2 separate regions of the Homo sapiens genome follow, and region 2 is linked to region 1. The links come from fine-mapping of genetic effects on plasma protein levels. A gene starts in region 1. The other region holds a variant in brackets. All regions are shown on one strand. Distances are from middle to middle. Region 1 holds the start of PDGFRB (platelet derived growth factor receptor beta). Region 2 overlaps PDGFRB (platelet derived growth factor receptor beta).

Region 1 (5,998 bases):
GAGTGCCCTGGGTTGCTCCCTGTAGCTCTGCACCTCCCACCCATATCTCAGTTGAGAGGAGGAGTGACAGTCCTGGTGCCCACCAAGGGTTAATGGCAGTAGGGGCTAAGTAATTCCAGATGGGCCTCAGGACGGCTGGGCTGGCCGGAAACTGGAGGCCGCCAGCTTCCCAGGGGAGCCACCGCCAACTGCCCCTCCCCTTTGTGCTGCATCTCTGGCCCCAGCTGTACCCCTGCCCTAGGGCCCACCAGCCTCCTCTCCCTTGCTAGAGTCCAGCTCTAAGGGAAATTGCAGACGGACCATCCCAAGGGCCTTGTAGCACAGTGAGTCCACAACTGTTATGTACAAATAGGGAAACCGAGGCTCAGGCAGGGCAAGGGACTTATTCAAGTTCTCCTGATAAGTCTGTGGCTGGGTCTTCTGACTCCCAGACTAGCTTCTTTGGGGACTAGGGGGTTGGTGTGTCTCGTGGCCTCCCCCAGGCTGGCCTGGCTGCAGAGGGTCAGCCAAGGATTCAGAGGTGAATGGCCCAGGCAGATGCTAGGAGGGGAGTCGTAAATTTCTGACGGAATCTTTGGGCACAAGAAATCCCTGTGCAAGCCTGACCTTGTGGCCTGTGGGATCTTTTCACATTCCCCTATTTCCCTGTTGCCACAAAGACCTGGCCAGGCCCCCTCTCTCGGGGTACTCTTATGGTCCCCAACCCGTGGCTGGGAACCAGTCTGAGAACACTTCTCCTTCTATGTGGTCCAGCCCAGATGCTCTGCTGGGCAATCCCGATTGGGACTAGACCAAGAAATGCAAGATAGTTGACTGTGGTGGGCATGGAATCCCAGCTCACGCAAATCCTCTGCTCTGTGAACAGGGGTCTGGGGGAAGCTGAGGAGGAAAGACTTAGCGGCGCAGAGGGAAGGAGGGCAGAGCCAGCCTCTACCTGTGTCACCTGGGACAGCTTTCTTCACCCTCTGGAATTCAGTTGCCCTGTGGGTGCAGTAGTGGGAGCAGGGGTGGTAAGCCCACTCTATATGCCCTTCTAAAATAATGCCCTTTGCCATCTGAGGGCTAGGAGTCTGTAACTGGAGATGTCTTCTGATCTGAGAAGCTGAGGGTGGAAGAAGAGACCCAGCTGGGGGAACTGGAGGAGTCTTGGCAGACCCTGGTAGGAAAGGAGAGCCAGAGAATGGAAATGGAACAAAACGGATACTTGAAAGTATCTTGTTGAGGCTGGGTGCGGTGGCTCAAGCCTGTAATCCCAGCACTTTGGGAGGCTGAGGTGGGTGGATCATGAAGTCAGGGGTTTGAGACCAGCCTGGCCAACATAGTGAAACCCGGTCTCTACAAAAAATACAAAAATAGCCAGGTGTGGTGGTGTGCGCCTGTAATCCCAGCTACTTGGGAGTCTGAGGCAGGAGAGTCACTTGAACCTGGGAGGCGGAGGTTGCAGTGAGCCTAGACTGCGCCATTGCACTCCAGCCTGGGAGACAGAGCAAGACTCCATCTCAAAAAAAAAAAAAAAAAAAAAAAGAAAGTATCTTGTTGAGTGACTGAATGAAAGAGCCACAGGGGGAACCTAGGAAGAAAGCAGGGCAGGGGGTTCATCTACACTGGAATAGGGGTCTCGGGTGGGGGTCAGATGACTTGTGTCTCTTCCATCATGTGTCTCATGAGACCTAGTTCTGCCCCAGCTCTGCCATTGCTGCGTAAGCTTGGGAAGCTTATTTTGCTCCTCTGGGCCTCAGTGTCCCCATCTATAAAATGGGGCAAATAATCCTCTCCTTGCACCCCAGGGGCTTTGAGACGTGAAAAGGAATGTATCTGTCAATATCCAGAGATATCCAATCTGTGCTGGATGACCTTGACCAAATCACATTCCCTCTCTGTGCCAATTCACCCCTGGGCCTTGGTTTGTCCTTCTGAAAAACGGCTGATCATCTTGGAGGATCTTTCCATCTCCTCCATGTCACCTCTTCTCAGCAGTGCTCTCTGATTCTCTCAGGCTTCCGTTAGGGGTCCTTCTAAATGCACTCTCAGCCTCCTGTCTGCCGACCGGGCACCTGCTTGCCCAATGAATATCTTGCTCACTAGCCTGGTGCTTCTGAGGTCAGGACCACGTCTTGCTACTGTCCCCTGCACCCAGTACAGTGTTAGAATGTAGTAAATGCTCAGTATGCTTGTTCAATGAATGAAGGTTGACTGAATCAACCACAGAGATGATCAGAGTCTCCTTTACAGATGGGGAAACTGAGGCACTGAGAAATGATCTCCCTGGGTGCCATGGCAAGGGGAGGCCGCCACCCGACATGGGCATCGGGAAAGTGGGGCCGAGGCCACTCTTTGACAAAAGTGACTCAGCAGCTGGCGGCTGGCGTGGGCTGTGGAATTTCTAAGCATCCCCTCACATCCTGAGCGAACGGGCGATGGGAGGGAGTAAGCAGAGTGAAAAGAAGAAAAACAAGAAACTTGGGGGAAAAGAAAGAGAGAGGGGGAAAAAAACTGAAATTGAAAACAGACGCACGCGTCCACCCTCCCTGCCCCGCCGCCCCCCCTTCTCCCAGCTGGGCCAATCAGAAGCCACCCTGCAGCCTTTCCCCCAAAGTGGCGGGGGAAGTGGGGGGGCATGGAAGCCCATAGTGGTGTGAGCTCCTGAGGCTGCCAGCAGCCAGCAGTGACTGCCCGCCCTATCTGGGACCCAGGATCGCTCTGTGAGCAACTTGGAGCCAGAGAGGAGATCAACAAGGAGGAGGAGAGAGCCGGCCCCTCAGCCCTGCTGCCCAGCAGCAGCCTGTGCTCGCCCTGCCCAACGCAGACAGCCAGACCCAGGGCGGCCCCTCTGGCGGCTCTGCTCCTCCCGAAGGATGCTTGGGGAGTGAGGCGAAGCTGGGCCGCTCCTCTCCCCTACAGCAGCCCCCTTCCTCCATCCCTCTGTTCTCCTGAGCCTTCAGGAGCCTGCACCAGTCCTGCCTGTCCTTCTACTCAGCTGTTACCCACTCTGGGACCAGCAGTCTTTCTGATAACTGGGAGAGGGCAGTAAGGAGGACTTCCTGGAGGGGGTGACTGTCCAGAGCCTGGAACTGTGCCCACACCAGAAGCCATCAGCAGCAAGGTAAGTGCTGGAAAAAGTGGGAACCCCAGCCCCATGCCCTGTCCCTTTGCCCTAACCTGCATCTCTTCGAGTAGGTAAAAAAAAAAAAAAAAAAAAAAAGGGAAGATATTTTTAACAAAACAAGATGAGAGGAGGCTGGGAGACTGTGGGTGATGTCAGGGATGGAGGAGCCAGTTTTCTCCTTTCCCCTGCTCTGGGGTGAGTGGCCTCCACCTCATCATCCCTGCTGCTCCTGCCTTCATCAAACAATCCTCAGGGGTTTCTGGGTGCTGACTGGGGGCCTCCAAAGCACAGCACAGTCAATGGGGAGTGGGGAGAGCTGGGAAGAGCGGGAGAGGGGAATTGGGAGAAGGTAGGCAGGGTACACAGAAAGCAGGGGACTGGGGACCTCAGGACCATAGCCGCTGTTCCTTGGCCCAAGCCTTGTTTCTAAGAATCAGTCTGGCTTTAGGCCAGTCAGCCGCCAGGCAACCTCTGGGGATTTAAATGGATTTGCAAATTTTCTAGATTCTTAAGATATCCTTCTAAACCCCCAGCAGCTAGAAAAGTTTGAGGGCTAGGAAAGTTCGAGGGTGATGGGCGGCCATGGCAACCCCCTAGCGGTCATGCTGCTGGGTCTGGGGGCTGGGACCTGGCTGTCAGATCTGGGGGCTCCTCTGTGAAGAAGGGGTCAGCCACTGGGCCATTTCCTTTGGTCCCAGGCAGCTGCTCAGGCCTCCTCGTTGTCTCCCTCCTTCTGGACTCTACCCCTTCTCCATGCCATTCTAAAGCATAAATCCAATCACACCACCTCCCTGCCCAGGATCCGCCTATGGCTCCCCAGTGCCTGGAGAAAGTCCCAGCTCCTAACAGAGGCTGCCACTGCTTGACACTTACTGCACGCCGCAACTGTGCTGAGTGCTTTATGAGACTGATCTCATGTAATGCTCACCAGCAACCCCAGAGGCAGTGACTGTTTTTACCTCCGTTTTATACATGAGGAACTTGAGGCTCACGCAGCCACATAACTGTAGCCACACAGCTAGTAAGTGGCACAGCCTGGAGAGGTTGGAATCTCCCCGTGCCCCATTACTCCAAACTTGGGCCTTTTGTTCCCGCCAGTCAGATCCCAGAATTCCCAGAAGGAATGCGCACCATCCTGCTTGTGGGCATTTGCCCTCCCTCTTCCCCCTTTCTGGAATGCCCTTCCTCATCACTTTTCTTTCAGGGATATTCCATACACCACCTCTTCCAGGCAGCCTTCCTAGGTTCTTCCTGTCTTCCAAGTGCTAGCCATGCACTTTGTGCTGAAGCCATGTTACTTGGCCCTCCCCTGTTGGTGATCTGTTTATGTTCTGTTTGTTCATCAGAGATTGTTCAGGCCCCAGCAGTCAGAACTGAGGCCGCACTTTCTGCTGGGGAAAGGTTTAAGGTTTCCCCATCCTGTGCTCTTCCCCCAGTGCCCAGCCCTGGATAGGCAGTGCGGCTGAAAAAATGTCCTGGTGAAAGGGAGGAGGAGCTCACTGAAGACCTTCTGCTCCCAAGTGTGAGACTAGAACCCAGGCCTCCAGCCTTCTCACAGGTGCCCTTCCAGGACATCGTGTGGCTACTCCAGGCAGCATTCCTCCATTGCAAGCAGGGAGGAGTATCTCTGCTTCCCTCTGTGACCTCCCAATTGCACAGAGGCCTCTAGTGACAAGTTCTGAAGTCATGCAGTCCTCCCCTGTCTCCAAGCAGGAGACCCTGAATCCACAGCCTTCAGGGACATACAGTCCCTGAACACCTACCTCATGCAGGCATAGAGCCTGGTACTTCACACACCTTGGAGTCCTCATGGCAAGTTTTTGAAATCAGTGTTATTACCTACTTTTTGTAGATGAGGAAGCTGAGATCTGGAGAGGCTAAGTGACTTTCCCAGGGCCATACGGTGAGTTAAGGTGGTGTTTAGGCTGAAGTCTGCCTGACTCTAAAGGCTTACCTCGTGCTCCCCGGGAAGCTCCCAGTCAGAGGGAAGAATCTCCATCCTCCTGCAGAGCCTGCTCCTGGCTTCAGCACCTTCCCCAGCAGAAAGTGCAGCCTCAGGTCTGACTGCTCCAAGGTCTGCCCGGGCCCTGGCTTGGTCTTGAGAGAGGAAAGAGACCATCTGGTCAGCACCCTCCTCCCAGACAGCAGTTATCAGCAGCCCCCCTCCTCTGCGGGAAGAAGAGCTGGGACTTATAATTGCCCACACATGTGGGGCAGGCAGTGGAAAGCACCGTGGATCCAGAGTCAGGAGACCCAGTGCTTGCCCTGGCTTGATTTAAATCCACCGTGTGGCCAACCTCAGACCCCCCACATCCCATCTCTGGGCTCCTTCCGCAGCTGGGAGGCAGTGAGCGCTGTGGGTAACCAGCACCAGGCTTGGGCATCAGATGACTATGCATTGACCCCGAGTCAGTTTCTGGCTGACTGTGTGACCCCGGGGCAGCACCTTGCCTCTCTGGGCCTCAATCTCCTTCTCTGTGAGCAGCAGGACCGTGTGTGGGCTCCATGAGACAACAGCATTGGCAAGGTGCTTACCACAGTTCCTGCACTTCACAGCTGGACCTCTGGCCACTGGCTGAGAGAACCACTGCTCTCCTGGCCTCCTGCATTGGAACACTTGGCTGTGAAATTAATCTGCAACCTGCAAAAGGCTCTGCCCACAGAAGGGACCTGGACACCATGTATGTTCCAAAGATCCGTGTCCATCCTCCAGGCACAGGCCACAGTCTGACTCTGAGACCAGCTGCCTTCTAGGCTAAAGGAGGGTGCTCTGGGCATTGGCTCAGAACAGGCTGCTGCTGAATGCAGTGGGAAGGGAGAAAGGGATGAAAAGGTCTTCTGAAATGCCCACCCATTTCTTGCATTTGATTCAGAACCCAGTGGGCAGTGGGT
Region 2 (12,513 bases), 16 kb after region 1:
GCTCTGGAGCCTGTCTGCCCAGTATTAAACACTGGAGACACCACTGGCAAGCTTTTGGGCAAACAATGTAAACAGTCTGTGCCTCAGTTTCCACATCTGTAAAATGAGGAAGCAGTACTGATGTCATGGGATTGTTCTGAGGACTTGGTGAGATCATTCATATAAGGAGCTTAGCATAGATAGTGGGTGATAAGTACAGCAGACCCTTGAACAATGAGGGGGCTGGGGACAGCCACCAACTGCAAAGTTGAAAATTCATGTATAGCTTTTGACTCCCCAAAAACTTAACTGCTAATAGCCAGCCTACTGTGGGCCTTACTGATAATGTAAAGTCAATTAACACATATTTTGTCTGTTATGTATATTATATACTATGTTCTTACAATAAAGTAAGCTAGATGAAAGAAAATCACAAGGAAGAGAAAATACATTCAGTTTATATTAAGTGGAAGTAGATCACTGAAAAAGTCTTCACCCTTGTCTGCACGTTAAGTAGACTGGGAAGGAGGAGGAAGAGGAAGGGTTGGCCTTGCTTTCAGGGGTGGCAGAGGCGGAAGAGGTGGAGGAGTGGAAGGGTGGGAAGGAGGTGGATGTTTCACATGTGTGGAACATTCACGTGTTAGTGGACCTGCACAGTTCAAACCTGTGTAGTTCAAGGGTCAACTGTACTAAATCAGAGGTAGCTATTATTATTATTGTTATTTTTAAGGCTGTTGGAGGCCCAGATGGGGCCGGGGTGGGTGGGGGGACTCAGGGCCAGGAATCCACAGGGCCCTGGGGGTAACCCTCAAGGCACCGCAGGAGGCAGGAAGTGCTTGCTCTGCAGCCGGTGGGCAGGGGTGTGCAGCAGGCCTCCCTCCCTCACTGACCTCCTTCTCAGGCTGCTTCCCAGCCTTCCTGGGGACCCAGGCCCCCTCCCTTGGGCCCCCAGCAGCCGTGAGGCACACACTGAGCGCTTTCCCACGCACTGTTCCAAGTAGCCAGCCGCATCGCTGCCCCCACCCCCAAGCACAGGCACTCTGACGGGTGAGGGGGTGTTTGCTGCAGGAGAGCGGGGCTCGGGCTGGGGAGATCAGCCCGTTCTTTATCAGCCTGGCCCCATTCCAGACAGATGTTTCATCTTATTTTGGACTTCCAGAAAATAGGTCATTTCTTTCCATTGTGTTCCCTGGGGAGGCCTCATGGGGAGAGGAGCATGCAGTGAGTGACGAGTGTGAGGGCCTGGCTTGGGCCCTGGGGAGCTGGAGGGGCAGCCGCCTTCCTCCCTCAGTTGTGAGGGAGCTGTCAGGGCCGGGCCGGAAGATTCTGAAAGGCTGGGCAGAGAAGCCAGCCTTTGCCTGAGGGGGATGGAGAGCAGAGGAGGGCCGGAGAGGTCACATAGGTATTTCAGAAAGGTCCCTCTGGCTGGGGTGTGAGAACAGGTGGAGGGGACAGATTGGAGGTGAGGAGATTGGCGGTGGGATAGCCAGAGGCAGCCGAGCCTGTGCTGGAGGAGGGGGTGCAGGGGGCTTAGCAGCCTTCCAGGGAACCAGCGCTATTCTTCCATCCAGTTTGGACTTCCAGAGCAGCGGGAGCACACGCCAGGCCCCATCTTAGTCGATTTCTGCTGCTTTGTTCAGGGGACTTTGTAGGTACCTGGAGAAACATAAAGAGGACCCCGGGCCTAGAAGCAGCGTGGCACAGAGAATGGCTCCAACACCGAGTGGGCTGCGCCGGGCTGCTCTCTTTCTGTAGCCCTTAGAGTGATCCCGAGGCTGGTGGGGAGGTTCGTGGTGCAGGGGTGGAGCACTGAGCCTTCTCCAACAACTGGAAGTGGAGCGAGCATAGGATTGAAGGGGGCGGGTGGGAGCCTCGGCCACTTCCCCAGTTTCTCCCCTCCACCTGTAACTGTCTCCTCACCCTCCGATCCTGCTCTCTTCTCTGGCTCCCAGGATGGGGCTCCCTGATCACATGACCCAATCACACCCACATCTCAGCCTGCTTGGGGACAGCCACATGGACCAGACTTGCCGCCAGGCCCAGGCTGTGCTGCTATCCCTTTCCTACTCTTTAGCTGCTGGCGGGAGGACTTCATCCCTGGCTCCAGATGCCTCTTGCCCCCACAGACTCCCAGGCCTGGAACTGGCAGCCTTCTCTGAGCTGAGTCATGACATGGGTCCCTCCCCAGCACCCCCACCCCGAGCCCAGCATTCCAGCTCAGCACAGCTGCCTTCCCAGAGTGGAGCCCTGAGGGCCACAGCATGTCAGCCCTGAAAGTGCTCCCAAGACACTCTTGCCCACCCTTTTGCACAGATAAGGAAACTGAGGCTCAGAGAGGGTCAGGACTGTACAGTAGTCACCCTTAGCTGCAGTTTCACTTTCTGAAGTTTCAGTTACCCCAGATCAACTGTGGTCCAAAAACATTAAATGGAAAATTCCAGAAATAAACAACTTACAAGCTTTAAATTTTGTGCTGTTCTGAGTAGTGTGATGAAATCTTGCACTGTCCTGTCTGTCCCGCCCAGGAGTGAATCATCCCTTTGTCCATATACGCTACCCACCTGTTAGTCATCAACAAAGTCCACTACTGACATCCAGCCATCAACACCATCATGGCTCGGTGGTCCAGGATCACTTGGAGCAGATGACCTGATCCTTCTGATAATGTCTGGAGGTCAGTAGTAGCCTAACGCTACTTCACAATTCTTACGCCATCACCTCACTTCCTCTTATCACGTAGGCACCGTGTCATTCCACGTCTTCACAAGAAGAGTGAACGATACAGTAAGATATTTTAAGAGAGAGAACACAGTCACATGACTTTTATTACAGTATATTTTTATCATTGTTCTATTTTATTATTATTGTTGTTCATCTCTTACTGTGCCTTATTTATAAATAAAACTTTATAATAGGTATGTATTTGCAGGGAAAAGAACATAGTATGTATGGGGTTTGGTTTTATCCAAAGTTTCAGGCATCTACTGGGGCCTTGGAATGTATTCCCTGCAGATAGGGGGGACCACTATCCTATAAGTGGGTGTCACAGCCGGGACTAGAGCCAGGTCTTCTTACTTCCCACCCCAACCCCCCTCCAAAGTCTGTCCCAGGCCTGTAAAGTGCCCCGGTACGGAGAACAGAAGACTGGACTGGGTCAGGAGACTGGAGTCTGTGGCTCACTTCTCCCAACAACTTAGCAAATTACCTCCTCTGAGTCTCAGTCGCCAATCCCTGCCTGGCTGGGCTCGTGCAGAGAATGTGACTTTGAAACAAAGGTCAATGTGTGGCAGGACAGAGGTGTGCTGTGGAGAGGGCAGGGGCAGCTATAGCCTGAAGCCTGGGGCCTTGAGCCACCAGCCTCACATCTTAGCAGGGGCTGGAGGCGGGGAGCTGCGCAGCCAGGTGAGCTTCAGCCCCACCGATCACCCGAGCCCATCTTGTCTAGGCCAAAACAATGGGCCCTCTTGCTTTCCTTCCCTAAGCCTCAGTTTCCCCACGAGCACAATGGAGCACAGGAAGGCAGTTAGATCAGATAGATGATCCCTGAGGGCTCTGGCGTGCTGACATTCCAAGACTCTGACCCCATAACCCCATGGCCAGGCCTCCTCCTCCCTCAGGCATTTGGTTTATTCAGAGCATCCCAGGCCTGAGACTGCCTGCCCCCAGCACCCCCCTCTCCCTGCAGCATGGCCCTCTCTCTCTCATCTCACTGCTGTTTCTACCCGGCCTGTTCCTGGCCTCCAGACTGAACATCCCACTGTCCCCTCAGTGCCCACAGACCCTCCCTATCCTAAACCTGCTCAGTTGCAGCTCTCACTCCTGCTCTTTGACCTCATTCTCATCTCAGAAAATGGCATCGTCCCCTCAGCACGTGCGCGTGTACACACACACACACATACACTTCTGCCTCCCAGTATTCCAAGCCAGATACAGAGGTGCATACCTCCCTCTCCAGCCCCTCAATATTAAGTCACCCAGTCCTGTTGATTCTCAGCTAAGTAACTCTCAAATCCATCTGTTTTTTTCAGTCCCCACTGCCTTCTCCCCAGACCCAACCAAACATGCACGTTGGTCAGAGAAGCGGTGGAGCTGGTGGCATAGAACACAGAGTCACACCACTTCACTTTAATCTCTGCTCTACCCCTTCTGGCTCTGTGTTCCTAGCCCAGTTATTAAATGCTCTCTGCCTCAGTTTCCCCACTGTAAAATGGAAATGATCACTGTATCTACCTCATAGAGTTGATGGAGAATCAAGTGAGCCAATACGTGCCAAATGCTCAGAATGGTTCCTGGTGCAGTAACACGGGCTTTCTGGCTTGTCTGTTCATGCATATGGCTGTGTGTTCAGGTGAATTTGGGGTTCTATGTGCACATGTTCTGTGCATGTTGTATGTGCTGCATACACATGTGAACTGTTGCACACGGGTGCATCTCCACGGGTGCTGGGCACAGTGGGAGCTGCGCACATGTGTTTTGTGTGGGTGTGTACATGTTTAGTACCTGCATGAGGGCTTGGCACCCACATGGCCTCTTGCATACGTATGTGTTTCAGAGGAGTGTGCGAGGAAGTGCGTAGGCAGGCATCTGTGCATCTGTGCTGTGTGTATGTGCTGACCATGTGCAGGCTCCCCCCATCAACCCCCGCAGCAATGCAGGGCCCCCTCCCTGGCCTGCCTGTGTCGTGGGAGCCTCAGGACCCTGAGGGAGGGAAGCTGTTGCTGGCGGATGTGGCCAAGATGGGCTGGATTTATTTAGATTAAGGCGGTGGGAAAGGAGTGGAGAATTGTACGTGCTGGGAGGAGGGAAGTCTGGGGCTCTGAGAATGACTCCCCAAGCATGCTTGCTCTCCTGGACTTGGGGCACCCACTCCTCTCCCCTGGACTTGGGGTCCTTACTCTGCTCCTTTGACTTGGGGTCCCCACTCTGCTTCCTTTTGACTTGGAGTTCCCAGTCTGCTCCCCTGGACTTGGGGTCCTTACTCCGCTCCCCTAGACTTGGGGCCCCCCACTCCTCTCCCCTGAACTTGGGGTTCCACTCTGTGCCCCGGACTTGGGGTCCTCACTCTGCTCCCCTAAGGGGTCCCTCTGAGTCACGTGAGGAGCTGGGCATGATCTCCACTTTGGGCCTCTGAGCCTACAACCTGGCCAGAATAGGAGGAATCAGGAGGGGTTCCTGGCACATAGCACTCTCTTCATGGGCAAAAGGGGGACACCTAGGGGTGCCCTCCCTCTCTCTGCTCTAGAGGCCTCCCTGGGCAGGAGAGTACAGCAGATAGGGGGAGTGCCTGCTCTCTGACTGTGACATCCAGCTTGTCCTAGGTGGCCCTTCCCTAGAGTACAGTCCTCCTAAAGAGGGGAAGTTGTCACAGGCAAGCCCACTACCACCAAGTCAGCTGCCTGGGCCTCCCTGGGATTGGCTGGAACCAGAACAGCCTCTGGGAAGCACAAAGAGGCCTAACACATTTGGTGGAAAATGTGGGGTATCAGGGAGTCATCCAGGATGGCCTGGGAAGTCATGTCTGGGTGCCCTAAGCCCTTCTCTGCCCTCCCTGGCCCTCCAGCCTCTTGTCCCTACCACTCTTTCCTTGCCACCTCCTGGGGTTCCACGTCACCAGCGGAAAGTCCCCTGAAACACTGTTGAAACACTGTTGTCTAACTTTTTTTTTTTTTTTTGAGACAGAGTCTCACTCTGTCACCAGGCTGGAGTGTAGTGGCGTGATCTCAGCTCACTGCAACCTCCGCCTCCTGGGTTCAAGCGATTCTCCTGCCTCGGCCTCCTGAGTAGCTGGGACTACAGGCACTTGCCACCATGTCCAGCTAATTTTTGTATTTTTAGTAGAGACGGGGTTTCACCATGTTGGCTAGGTTGGTCTCGATCTCTCAACCTCGTGATCCGCCTGGCTCGGCCTCCCAAAGTGCTGGGATTACAGGCATGAGCCACCATGCCCAGCCTTGGTCTAACTCTTAATTGTATAGATGGGGAAACTGAGGCCCAGAGAGGGAAACAACTTGTCAAAGCCCGCACAGCAAGTCTGTGGCTGAATAGTCATGGAAATTCCTTTCGTGGAATGAGATGGCTGGTGGATTCTTATGTGACTCTAGCCTCAGGAATGTAGCCCCCTCCTGCTTACTAGCCCCCACCTCCTCAAAACACCCCGGTAAGATTCGTGGTGACTAGAATCTTCTCTTTGGCCTGTCAGAAAGGCAGAGCTTCACCATAGGGACAGCTCTTTGAGATGACACCTGCCAACCTCTCTATATGGATGGGGACGCAGAGTTCAGAGAGGCTGGAGACTCGCTCAGTCTCACAGTGGGTCCCAGGGTGCTTATGAGGGGAGCTGATTGCTCTATTCATAGTAAAGCCAGTCCGAGATCCCTGGGGTGCCTACAACCTCCCTACGGCATCCACACTGCCTGCCTGTCCTCTCCCCACAGCTTGAATCTGCCTTTTTGCTGTGTGACTGGGGCATGCTTCTGTCCTTCTCTGGGCCTCTGCTGCCCATTCAAAAAGCATACCTCCTAGCTCAGAGTCTCTAAGCCACCCCCAGCCCCAGGCCCAGCAGAAGAGAGCCTGAAGGGGAGAGGATGGAGTGCCACATGGGAGGAGGGTCGGGGGCTGCATGCCATGAAGGCCCAGCCCACATAGCCAGCCCAGCCTTCCAGAGCCAGGCCAGCCCCGCTGCAGTGACCTCCCTTCTCCTGGCCAGCCGGCCAAATTCCTCCTTTAGAATAATAAACAGTGTGGCCAGCCAGGGAGACTGGGAGAGGAGGGGCAGGGAAGCTGAAGTGACCCCCTCCCCCAGCCTCTGCTAATGATTTTCTTTGGCTGAGATCTCTAGCAGGAAGGGGGCAGCCAGAGGGGCACCGACGGAGGGGCAGATGGGCCTCTGTGGGGGCTGCTGGCTCCGCCTTGGCGCTGCTCCCTCCTGACCAAGGAGGCCTGGCATCCAGCTGGAGGGGCTGGGGCAGAGGAATGGTGGGGAGCAGAGGCTGGAGGGGGCGTCAGAAGGGCTGGGCTTTGAGTCAGGAGCAGTTCAGAGAGGGGAGAGGAAGAAACGAGGAGACCTTCAGGCAGGCAGTCTGAAAGGGAGGAGGGAGGAGAAGAGCTGATTTGCTCAGACTGTTTCTTGGGGTGTTGGGAAGAGCTAAGATTGGGGGTCCATAGGCGGGAGGAGCCTTGCCTATGTCCCACCCCTGACATGTGAATGCAGCCCTGGTAGGTGAGGTACTCACCATCATCCACTTCCAGAGCTGGGGACTTAGGCCACAGGGAGAGCGATGGCACAAGAGGTGGCATGCTGGGGCCTGAACCCGGTCTGCAGACCTAAACTGAAAACTAAAAGGGGTGAGATGGGGAGGTAGGGGCAAGCTGGGCATGGCCTTCAGAGGCAGGCCAGGCTGGGCAGCCCCACAGCCAGAGGAGGCTCCTTGTTGCCTCATCATGCCGTCACCTCCCAAAGCTCATGCTCTGCGACCCCTGTCCTCTGGCGTCCTTCCTGCCAATGCTGCAGGCAGACTCTTGGCATACTTGGCTCCTGGTGGTCTCTTGGGACCTGAGGTGTGTCTTCCAAGATAGAGGAGAGCAAGGGCCACCCCATTCAGTCTGTCTCTGTCTTTGTCCTTGCTTCTGTCTCTGTCTTTGTCCTTGCTTCTGTCTCTGTCTTTGTCCTTGCTTCTGTCTCTGTCTTTGTCCTTGCTTCTGTCTCTTAGTGCCTCTGGTGCTGTCTCTCTGGGCACCTCCTCTCTGTCTCTGTGTCTTTGTCTCTTTCTACTTCTATCATTCCAGGTCTCTTTCTCTCTGTCTCCCTCTCAGACAGGCTCTGCTGTGGAATCTTGGGTAAACTTCTCACCTTCTCAGAGCCTCAGTTTCCCCATCTGCACCCTGGGGGTGGGGGTGGGGGGAGCCTGGCTTCACTGGTCTCCAAGGACCTGTGAGGCCTGGCTGCTCGATGGGACCTCTCCTGGGCCCAGCCCCTAGCCGCTGTCCCCTGGGCCTCCCTGTATGCTCTGGGCTGAGTAAAGGTGTCCAGGCCCACCTCCCACATTCCACAGCCCCGGCTCCCCGGCTTCCCTTCCCACAGCCCACAGCCTCCTCCATTTCCTGTTGTGCTTGTGGAGCTGCGGGAGTTCTCTGGGTTCTGGCCTCCCCCCTCCTCCTCCCATCCCTTTCATCACACTTTCCCAAATATTTGTCCTGGCAGATAAGAGCCTGGTATTGGAACTGTCACCCGGAGGACAGGCTGTCAGAGCTGGTAGGCTACTGGATACCATCCAGCCCAACTTCCCCTCCCTCACTGTACAGACAGGGAAACTAAGGCACAGAGAGAGTCTGGGGACGCAGCCGAGGCCACGTGAGAGTCACAAGCAGAGCCAAAGCAAAGGCCAGGACCCCAAGGCTAAGTCCGGGATGGAGAGGAGACAGCCTGTGGTCATGAGTGCCCTTTCAGGCTTGGGACGTGGTGGCTTTTGACTTCAGCCCCTCGGACATGAAGGCTGGGTGGCCCAAGCTGGGGCTCATTCTGCAGGAGCCAGGTGGTGAGATAGCCCCTGTCGCTGCCTCCACCTGCCCTGGGCCCTGACTCCTGTTTAACTCTGCAGGACACCATGCGGCTTCCGGGTGCGATGCCAGCTCTGGCCCTCAAAGGTGGGTAGATGGGAGATAAGGTAGGGGACCCGGGGGGCTGCGGAGTGGAACCCTGGAGCTGGCAGGGGTGATGTGTGCTGGTGGCAGGGCGTGAAGCACCAGGCACACTGCCCTGCCCTTCAGCTTTAGTTTTCAGGATTTCCAGTGGGCTCTGTGGAGGCCTCCAGCTGCCAGCCCTTCAGCTCAGAAAGCGTCAGTGGGCCCCTGCTTGTCCAGAACCATCAGCTCAAATCCTTTGATTGGCCCTCCAGACCCCATCCCACCTTCTGGCCCACACCCCTGGCCTCCTATCCTCGGTCTGGTGGATCTGTGGCACTCGGCTTGGACCCCTCATTGGCTGGGAGCTTCCAGGTCCCTGCTGGGCTTCTCAGCACACCCCACCCCTCACTCCTGCCCGTTAACATGTCTTCAGCTCTGCAGGGGCTGAGCGACTGACCCAGCAATTAATGACCAGCCAGCAGCCTGCCCGGCAGCTGGCCATAAGATGGACTGGCTGCCTGACCGCCCACCTCCCCTCCTGATCTGTATCACCAGGGGGCATGGAGGGCGTGGCCTGAAAAATCCTTCTCCAGGGGATGTCGTGGAGGGGGACCAATCACTTGACACACACACACCCCCAACCCCAGTTCCCTCCAGCCCAAAAGGGCCTCAGCATCTTTTCTGGCCCCCCTCTGAGCTACCTAAGCCCCTCCCTCCCATCTCTCTCCCACCCAGAGCCACCTCTGGGCCTTGGGCAGAACCTGGGCAGTCGGGGGAGGGGGCAGAGAGCTGTAGGGAAGAGGCTCAGAAAGTGACCTGGGAAGCAATGCAGGAACTGGAGGCCAGGGAATTGCTTCCCGAGGATTTCCTGGCCCCTTCTGGTGCCTACTGCCTACACATGGCACTGCTGAAGGACTCAGAGGCTGGGGTCTAACGGGACTGACAGAGGCAGTCCAGAGGAATCCCTGGGGCCTTGGAGCTGGGCGAGCGGTCCTCAGAGCCATGGCTGGAGAGCCCCAGTCTGTCGGATAAAGGAGCTGTGCTCCTCAAGGACCTGAGGGCTGTGCATACGTGGCCTCCTCGCAGGCTCAGCCTTGGGAGAGGTGCTGAAGCCCCTGTTTCCTGATGTCTGATACCTCCTCTCCCAAAGGCGAGCTGCTGTTGCTGTCTCTCCTGTTACTTCTGGAACCACAGATCTCTCAGGGCCTGGTCGTCACACCCCCGGGGCCAGAGCTTGTCCTCAATGTCTCCAGCACCTTCGTTCTGACCTGCTCGGGTTCAGCTCCGGTGGTGTGGGAACGGATGTCCCAGGAGCCCCCACAGGAAATGGCCAAGGCCCAGGATGGCACCTTCTCCAGCGTGCTCACACTGACCAACCTCACTGGGCTAGACACGGGAGAATACTTTTGCACCCACAATGACTCCCGTGGACTGGAGACCGATGAGCGGAAACGGCTCTACATCTTTGTGCCAGGTAAGGGCTCCCAGCCTGTGTGCCCACTCCTTACCCCTCTTGT[C/T]AACTGGAGGCATCAGGGGAAGTCCAGAGAGTGCTTTAGTTTATTGTGAAATGCAGCCATCCTAGAAAAGCAGACAATCATGGAACCAGCCTGGCTCAGTCGGGGAGTGTGTTCGCACCCACTCCTTGGTCTGGGTGATCTGCCTGCTCCCTGCCAGTCACCCTATTCCTGCCTCCCAAGAACTCTATATTCTCAGCTGCTTCCAATCTGCTCCCTCTTGACCCCACATCCCTTCTTCCCCATTCTCCAAGCTCCAGATATCAGCTGCATTTCAACTTGTGACTTGCCTTCTTTCTTACCCTGGCACTGTCAATATCAAACATTAGAGCTGGAAGGGACCAGCTCTAACATTTGATTTATGCTCTTCTGGGAGCATCCCTATTCTGTAACGGGGAGACAGAGGGCCAGAGATGGCAAATGACTTGCCACACAGCAATTCAGGGGATGGCCAGAAACCCAGTTCCCCTGATTTATTCACGGCTCCACTCCTGGCAGATCCCACCGTGGGCTTCCTCCCTAATGATGCCGAGGAACTATTCATCTTTCTCACGGAAATAACTGAGATCACCATTCCATGCCGAGTAACAGACCCACAGCTGGTGGTGACACTGCACGAGAAGAAAGGGGACGTTGCACTGCCTGTCCCCTATGATCACCAACGTGGCTTTTCTGGTATCTTTGAGGACAGAAGCTACATCTGCAAAACCACCATTGGGGACAGGGAGGTGGATTCTGATGCCTACTATGTCTACAGACTCCAGGGTGAGCCCCCTTTCTGGCCTGATGCTCAGCAGAGGCAAGTATAACCCTCCACAGAGGAATAGCCCTTTACAGTTTACAAAGTGTGGGACTCCACTTCCCAGTGGATTCTCACCACAGCCTTCGAAGGAAGATAGTGTTTTCCCCATGTTACAGAAGAGGGAAACTCAGGCGCAGAGAGAGGATGGAGCTTGTCCCCTGTCGCAGAATTCGATAGTGGCAGAGCTGGCCTGTGCAACATGGTCGGTGAGGGCACAAGCTTCAGAGCCAGCTGGGTCGAAATCCCAGCTTTGCTATTTCCTGTCTGAGTGACTTTACACAAAGCACATAATCTCTCTGAGCCTGCTTCCCCTCTTGTAACGTGGGGATAACAATGGCTGCCTACCTCATAGGATCAATTGTGAAGATTAAATAAAAGATGGAGAGTACCTGGCACATGTTATGTGCTCAATACATTTCTCCTGTACATAGATCTCCAGAGGGTACTTTGATTTCCAGACTGTTATCCCTTCTAGAACGTCAGCTCCATAAGAACAGAGATTTTGTCCACTTTGTTCACTACTGTTGCTCCAGTGTCCAGAATAGTACTTGGCATGTAGTAGGTATTCAGTAAATATTTGTTGAATGAATGAATCTTCTACATCAGTCATCCTTTCCCTCTCTAGCCCCCTACCCTATCCCCAAGCTGAAGTGCTAGTGGCTGGTGGTGACTTCCCCAGACCTAAGCCAATCTCTCTCTACCAGTGTCATCCATCAACGTCTCTGTGAACGCAGTGCAGACTGTGGTCCGCCAGGGTGAGAACATCACCCTCATGTGCATTGTGATCGGGAATGAGGTGGTCAACTTCGAGTGGACATACCCCCGCAAAGAAGTAATGTGGGGCCAGGCAGGGGTCGGAGGAGGGGCCAGGAACGGGTGGATATCTGGCTTGCAGGCTGATTTCTCCCCGGCCCCTCCTGATTTGGGGGGCCTGCCCAACCTGTTGCTGCAGAGTGGGCGGCTGGTGGAGCCGGTGACTGACTTCCTCTTGGATATGCCTTACCACATCCGCTCCATCCTGCACATCCCCAGTGCCGAGTTAGAAGACTCGGGGACCTACACCTGCAATGTGACGGAGAGTGTGAATGACCATCAGGATGAAAAGGCCATCAACATCACCGTGGTTGGTGTGTGCCTTGGGCTCAGCCCAATCCCCAATTCCTTCAACGCTCCCCACCCTCACCCACTTTGCTGGGTGCAGAGTGATGGTGAGAGTTGCATTTTTGATACAGTGATCAGGGCTGAGCTGGACCCAGTGCCTGTCACAGCCCCGGGGTATAGTCAGCCACACTCCAGTGCAGCCCTAGCTAGCCTCTGTGCCAACCAAAACCCCAATTCCAGGATAAACCCCAAACCAAAATGTAGTGTCAGCCCCAAATCCAACCCTATCTCAACCTAGACTTTCTGACTAGCCAGAGCCCCAGCCCCAACCTGACTTCCAAGCCCAACTGCCATCCCAGGTCCGGGAAGCCCCATCCCCAAATTCAACCTTATCACTAGTCCCAGCATCAGCCACAGTACTGACCCAGAACAGAGAACTGTTAGTACAACTCTGTTCCCAACCTGGGAGCTGGCCCCAGCATCCATATTAGCCCC

Evidence for each region. PIP is the chance, under the fine-mapping model, that this variant and not a neighbour inherited with it causes the effect. Protein levels are from the aptamer-based SomaScan assay of Sun 2018.
Region 2: its variant is fine-mapped to the plasma level of the PDGFRB protein (Sun 2018, PIP 0.95).

The regions. Positions count from the first base shown.
Region 1 is chr5:150,152,502-150,158,499 of GRCh38, reverse strand. It overlaps PDGFRB (platelet derived growth factor receptor beta), which reads left to right and starts at 2,655. Exons shown (of 23, transcript NM_002609.4): 1 at 2,655-3,103. RefSeq lists enhancers at 1-737, 4,895-5,414, 5,415-5,935.
Region 2 is chr5:150,133,117-150,145,629 of GRCh38, reverse strand. It overlaps PDGFRB (platelet derived growth factor receptor beta), which reads left to right. Exons shown (of 23, transcript NM_002609.4): 2 at 8,577-8,622; 3 at 9,752-10,075; 4 at 10,614-10,880; 5 at 11,622-11,749; 6 at 11,870-12,044. The coding sequence starts at 8,583. Among named protein-coding and RNA genes, the nearest start is that of PDGFRB, 16 kb to the left of the region's middle. RefSeq lists enhancers at 7,529-8,040, 8,551-9,062, 9,063-9,572, 9,573-10,084. The variant C/T (reference allele first, on the strand shown) is at 10,119.